Linked DNA regions of Homo sapiens. The protein of the gene in region 2 purifies or fractionates together with the protein of the main gene of each other region. This does not show direct contact. Each region holds a gene or a part of one and is shown on either strand. Other genes may lie near its edges.

What was found.
Region 1: the proteins of AKR1C3 (region 2) and ABAT fractionate together in Homo sapiens (co-fractionation; one large-scale study listed by BioGRID). This does not show direct contact.

Annotation. Positions count from the first base shown.
Region 1 is NC_000016.10:8,779,117-8,782,616, forward strand, and holds part of ABAT (4-aminobutyrate aminotransferase, mitochondrial isoform 1 precursor), read left to right. Parts: intron 1-362; coding exon 363-474; intron 475-2,133; coding exon of another isoform or gene 2,134-2,192; coding exon 2,193-2,314; 3' UTR 2,315-3,500. UniProt on the Homo sapiens protein: Catalyzes the conversion of gamma-aminobutyrate and L-beta-aminoisobutyrate to succinate semialdehyde and methylmalonate semialdehyde, respectively. Can also convert delta-aminovalerate and beta-alanine.
Region 2 is NC_000010.11:5,100,914-5,104,413, reverse strand, and holds part of AKR1C3 (aldo-keto reductase family 1 member C3), read right to left. Parts: intron 2,314-3,500; coding exon 2,204-2,313; intron 1,930-2,203; coding exon 1,764-1,929; intron 1-1,763. UniProt on the Homo sapiens protein: Cytosolic aldo-keto reductase that catalyzes the NADH and NADPH-dependent reduction of ketosteroids to hydroxysteroids.

The DNA of each region.
Region 1 (3,500 bases), on a different chromosome or scaffold from region 2:
GCTAAAGTCTCACCACGGCCCCAGTGGGGTCAACAGCATTTAAATCCTTCAGTTTATAGCAGGGTAAACAGAGGCACTTGAGTGGCCCAAGGTTATACAGTGAGAGGGACAGAGCTGGGCTTGGTTGTTGTTGCTGGTGGTGGTGGTGGTGGTTTTTTTCCTCCACACAACACACATGTGCACAGCTGGGCTTTGAACCCAGGCCTGAATGTCCCCAGAGCTCTTAACCCCCTGGAGGTCCTGCCAGTCCATGCAGAGGCCGAGGCTGGACCATGGGAGGCCTTTGACGAAGCACAGCCATTAAGCCCAGCTGGTACACAGGTGATGGGCTTTGACGCCAGCCTTGTCTCCTCCCACTACAGGCCCGGTACCCCCAGTTCATCAGCAGGGTGAGAGGACGAGGCACCTTTTGCTCCTTCGATACTCCCGATGATTCCATACGGAATAAGCTCATTTTAATTGCCAGAAACAAAGGTAAGGGGTCAGGAGTGGCTGCTGAGTTTCATGAGCATCCAGTATCTCCTGCTGTAGCTGCCACATGTTGCTAGGTACTCAGCAATATTTTGTGTGGGGGGCAGGTGGTACACAGGTCTGAAAAGAGCCTGAATGCTCTTTCTCCAAAGAAGAGAACATTACAAATGGGATTTCTTTATCCATTTATTTACTCAACAAGCGTTCGCTGAGGAGGTGAGTTGTAAGTGGACACTGGAGACAGTTACAGTGATGATGAAGACCATCAGAGCCCCTTCCTTCAGGAAGCATGCAGTGTAGCAGGAAGGCATGGCTTTACACATGGCATTTCACAACCAATCCATTGCAATTTTAAGTCCTGGGAAGGAGAAAACGCAGCTAAGAGAGCAGATAGCTGCAGCAGTTGGTGAGGGTAGGAAATCAGGGCAGGCTCCCTTGAGGAAGTAGCATTTTACCCTAAGTCTTGACAAACAGGGATTGGCTGGGTGAAGAAGGTAAGGAAGAGCATTCTGGGCGGAGGGAAGGGTGCATGCGATGGCCTGAGGTGGGATGGAGCTTACAGAGGTGGTAAAAGGGAAAGAAGGGGGCGTGAAGGCGAACGGTTGGGAGGGGATGAAGCTGGGGGAGGAGAGGCCAGGCCCGGGTCGCATGGGCCTGCAGATCAGGCTTAGCACTCCAGACTTCATCCTAGGAGCTGTGGGAAGCCACTGAGGACATGTGTGGCAGGGGTAAGGGCAGACGCTGTGGTGAGATCAGAGCACGTACTCTATGTCAGGCACATTGTCAGTTCTTCTTGTGCCATCTTACAGAATCCTTGCAGCAGCCTCAGAAGGGCAGGGATAATCAACCTCCATTTTAAAAATGAGAAAACGTGGTCTCAAAGGCATAAACAGGCCGGGTGCAGTAGCTCACGCCTGTAATCCCAGCACTTTGGGAGGCCGACGTGGGCAGATCAGCTGAAGTCAGGAGTTCGAGACCAGCCTGGCCAACGGGGCAAAACCTCATCTCTACTGAAAATACAAAAATTAGCTGGCCGTGGTGGCGGCACCTGTGATCCCAGCTACTTGGGAGACTGAGGCAGGAGAATGGCTTGAACCTGGGAGGTGGAGGTTGCAGTGAGTGAGACTGGGTTGCCACTGCACCCCAGCCTGGGTGACAGCGCGAGACTCCATCTCTAAAAAAAAAAAAAAAAAAGGCATAAACAACCTCGACAAGGAAAGGACACCAGCTGTAACTGTGAAGTCACCCTTTAAAATAAGCAGAGCCTGTCCCTCCTCCGTAATAGCTCAGCACCTCACACATGCTTCCGACTCAGCCTGTGCTTTTGCAACTTATTTGCTTACCTATTTTCTTTTCCCACTCCTCCATGACTTTGTGGAAGGCAAGGACTTTATCTCAGGATTTCTCTATCACCAGACCTAGCTTGGGGCAGCAAAGCAGGCACTCAAAGGAGAGAGGGAGGGAGGAAGGGAAAAAGGAAGTGTGGAGGGAAGGAAAGGAAGAAGAGAATGATGGAGGAGATGAATGAGGGGAGAGAGAAAGGAAATGAAGACTGGATGGGTGGGTGGTAGGAAGGAAGCCCGGGCTTCCATGATGGAGGATGATGGATGGATGGATGGATGGATGGATGAGCGTTGCCAACAGGCATCACTTTCCCCCCAGCTCTCCCAGCATGTGACTTTGAGAAACCACGCTCCTCACCTACCTCCTGCCTCTTTCAGGTGTGGTGTTGGGTGGCTGTGGTGACAAATCCATTCGTTTCCGTCCCACGCTGGTCTTCAGGGATCACCACGCTCACCTGTTCCTCAATATTTTCAGTGACATCTTAGCAGACTTCAAGTAAAGAAGCCATTTCCACTACAGTGAGAAAGCCCGGATCCCAACAGTTGTCAAATTGATTAGTTTGCCTAATTCATGTTTTCACTTAAAAGTATCAGAGGTGAATGCACAGTGAAGGGTGATTTGTGGGGAGGGAGCATTTTTGGTGGTCTTGGGGGAGGGGAGGGGAGGGAAGGGCTGGTGTTGATTTTCCTCCCTGCAGAGCCAATGGTGCACATTGGTTTAAGCCCAGAGATCCTGCTTGAGCCCTGGACTCATCTTGGGAAGGGCCATGGGAGGTCCTGGCTAGAGTTCTGCCCAACCTTGACCAACCCCAGCAATTTTTCCAAAAGCCAGTCAAGGGCATTACATTTGTTCCTGGGACTGGCAGCTGGGCCTCCTGGGTGCCAGTCCATCTCAAGTGCCATATTCTGTGATCACGGATGTTGGCTCCCCCTCGCCCTATGCAAGCAAACACACTCTCACCTCCTCTCCCAGCCTCCCGGAGCTCTGAGCACGCCCCACGCATGGTGCAGGAGGGACTGGACAGATCTGAGGAAGGCCGTAAAATGGGGACAGGAGGATTCAGCTCAGGAGTAAGGGAAGAGGTCCTCTGGCCCCCTGAAGATGAGAATCACCCCTCTCAGTGCACCTGGGGATCCCCCTAAACTGTGAATTCTGCCCTGGACAGGGCTTTGCCCTTGGAGGATCCCCAGGTGGCCTTACCCGTGATTCTTACTCGGCATCCTCCATTCCCCAAACTCCCTCCTCCCTGTTAAATGTCAACCTAGACCTGGACCTGGGTGGGAGGAAACTGTAGCCTGAGTGTCCACAGGGACACACGTGAGCCACAGGGCTAGAAGCACAGGCCCGTCACCCCAGGAGGAAAAGCCCAGGGTCTGGGGCAGCAGAGCCATCGCATCATGTTTCCCAGGGCAACTTGAGGTCTGACTTTTGGCTCCCTCGCCCTAAGAGGCTCTTCCTCTCTTTTGCTCATCCACCTTCACACCACTTGTGAGCTGACCCCCAGGAACAGCTTGGCTGTTCCACCAGAGCAGAGGGAATCATTGCTGGACTGGATTTCTTCTGGAGGGAAGCACCATGAATTAAAGGTGCCAGAGCTCCATGCATGGAAAAGTGGCCTGTTGGTTCAACGTGGTTTCCTTGTACTTGATCCTCCTGAAATGAGAGATTTTCCTGAGATGACTGAG
Region 2 (3,500 bases):
AATGTTTCATTTATGGTAGAGTAAAAAATCAAGATATGTGAGCAAATGTGAATGCTTTTCAATAATTGTTGGTGGCACCTTTTGATATCAATTTAGAAATTCCATGTGCATATTTGGGTTTTTATTTTACTTAGTATTGAAAAAGAAATTCATTTGAATTTACAACTAATTTATAAGTAAAGAGAATTACCAATTTTGCAAGATAACATATTAAAAGATTGTCATGTTCCCAATATAAGAAAAGACATGCCACTCATCAACCACAGGAAAGAGGCATGAATAATTTAACTACATGAAAAGTAGCAACTTTTGTTCATGAATACATAACTACAGAGAAAACCACAGCACATATGCAATTTGGGAGGTGGTACTTCAATAATACATCTAAATCTCTAAACGATTAATACCCAGAATATATATATGTATGTATGTGTAATCTATCTCATATATCTTATTAAACTATAATATATATATCAATCTATCATATATATTAACCTATCATATATTAATCCATCATAGATTAATAAGAAACACTTCCTCCAACACTCACATGTCCCTGTATCCACTTGCTTGGTTATATGAATTTCTAGCTCTTTCCAATAAGTGGTGGTGTCTGTTTACCCATCCCTTGAGTCTGGCCTGTCCTGTAATGTGGGTAATATTTGCCAGAAGCAATGGCGTGGCAGCCCTGAGCCTAGACATGAAAAGGCTTTGCATGTGTCCACTCACTGCCTTGGGGTCATGCCATGTGCTGAGGTGAAGTCTGGGCTGGATGGCTGCAGGATGAACTATATGGAGGAGAAAATGGCACCCAGACAAATGTCCCATTGACATCTTGAAGCAGAGCTATCTCGTTGTCCTGCAAACACATGAGAGAGCCCAGCCAAGAACAGAACTTGACTAAGTTCAGGCTGAGGCCATGCTAATTTTCTAACTAGAGAATCCTGAGTAAATCAGTGGTTTTCATCTTAAACCCCTATGTTGAGGGTGATTTGTTTAACAGCTCTATTTAATAGTATAATTATGGTCTCCTATACTTAAAAAAAAGACAAGCAACTAAGAGTCAAAGAAAGACTTAAACAGGCAGTACACAAACAGAAAACTCCAAGTGAATAAATATGTGAAATTTTAACTGAGCGTACGAAGAAATGGAAATGAAAAATCCACAATGACTGGTAGACTAAAGAACACCTAATGCTACTCCACATTTCTGAAGATGAAGAGGAGGCCAGGAGCGGTGGCTCACACCTGTAGTACCACTTTGGGAGGCCACAGCAGGTGGGTTGCCTGAGGTCAGGAGTTTGGAACTAGCCTGGCCAACATGGTGAAATACCTTCTCTATTAAAAATTACAAAAATTAGCCGGGCTTGGTGGTAGGCACCTGTAATCCCAGCTACTCAGGAGGCTGAGGCAGGAGAATCATCCCATCTGGGAGACAGAATGAGACTCTGTCTCAAAAAAAAAAAACCAAAACCAAACAAACAACATGAAAAAATGATGTTCCTGGTGCAGGGATGCAGAGTAGATTGTCAACTTAATGCTGAAATAAAAAAATCTCCATTTTTGGTCCCATCTTAATTCTCTGCACCTGTGCTGCCTCTCCCGTGGTAGAGTAGAAGAAACCCTCAGGATGCACGCAAAGCATTCATATGGGAAATACAGGGAAATGGAGCTGGCCCAAGGCTGTCCTGAGAGCCTTACAAGAAGCACACGTGTGAAGGACACTGTGCAGGAGACCTGAGGCCCACAGCCCCGCTCCTCACCTGCACGTTCTGTCTGATGCGCTGCTCATTGTAGCTCTTGGCCAGGACCACAACCCCACGCTGCAGCTGGTAGCGCAGGGCAATCAGGGCTGGGGTTCGCTTGTGCTTTTTTGCCAAGGCACAAAGGACTGGGTCCTCCAAGAGCACCGGGGAGTTCGGGTCCACCCTGGAAGGAAAGGCAGAAAGGCTGAGGCCCTGAGGCTGGCGATAGTTTGTTAGGCGGCTCCCTAAACAGACTAAGGCATCCACTCTGCACCGGAGCTTCTCAAGCGAGGCCCCCGAGCATCACCATCAGCATCATCCAAGATCTCGTCAGAAATGCAATTCTCTTTCCTCTCCATGAGCCACTTGAAACTTAACTACAGGAAACTGAGGATGCTCTGACTAAAAAATTTTCTGCAAAATGAAGGTTTATGTAAAGGTCCCATTGTTTTTATTACCATCGTTTGTCTCGTTGAGATCCCAGAGCACTATAGGCAACCAGAACAATATCTTTCGACTTGCAGAAATCTAGCAATTTACTCCGGTTGAAATACGGATGACATTCTACCTGCAGTTGACCAAAAGAGAGAAGCATCAATTTATATGAAATAGTTATGTTAATATTGAAAAGATGAAAGTAAGGAAGCTGAATAATAATCAGTATAGCATTATATTTGAGCTGAGGATATTATTGTCAAGTAATAACCTTTTTCATAGAAATAAATTTTATATATCTTCTAAAAGTATAAATGGAAATGCCATTTCTGAACAGAAGCTCATCTATGAATCAGATCCTGGCTTCCAAAGACCTTTGACAACTAGAAGGAGATGTAACAAGTTCCATATCTGGGATACAGTAAGATTCTTAGAGCCTTTGGGCTTCAGATTGTGCCAGAAAGCAAGAATTTGGTCAAGGACTCGTGAGTGCAAGTCTGAAAGACAAAAGCACTACTTTCAAAGAAATGTCACTGGTGATGTTTGGATAGATTTCAGCATCAAGAAAAAAATCTACCCATTGGGTAAGAATGAGCACTAACAAAAATTAATAAAATTAATTAAAAATCTTAAGGAAAAATGTCCAAGTCCAGAGTAATGAGTGAGATAATCAGAGAGCAAGAAAGAACAAAATAATTTGCCTCCACCATTGGTGGTTATTATAGTAATCTCTTAGGAAATTGATATTTAGAGGCAAGTATTAAACTTTGTCTTTGAGGAATATTTGTTCTTCATTTTGATTTGGTGAAGGATTTTTTTTCATAGTAAAATGTCACGTAAGAATAGTTAAATAAGGTTTTAAAATTGAAAATGATTATCTAAAAACTCCAAAAAATAATAAATACAATAATAAATAACCATTAAATACAAAAGTATTAGTGATGTTTACACAATCATATGTGAAAATTTGTCATGGAATATGACTTCTTCTGTTAGGAATTATCACCCAGTGGATTATAAGTAATTGCTGAATGGGAAACCTATGATTATAAAGAACAGATCAGCTCACAACTTGTTTCCATTCTGTTTTAAAAGGGAGCACTATAAAAGACATTTCCATTAAACAGTGGGAAATTCAAATATAGACTGGATGTTAAACGACATGAGGGCATTGCAGTTCGTTTCCTTAGATACAATAATTATACTGTAGCTGGAAGAATGTCTTCATTTCTGTGACATACTTTATTTAGGTCTATAGAGGTGAATTGTCATCTTTCCAATTTATTTTAAAGAGATTTTGAAAATATTATATGTATTTAT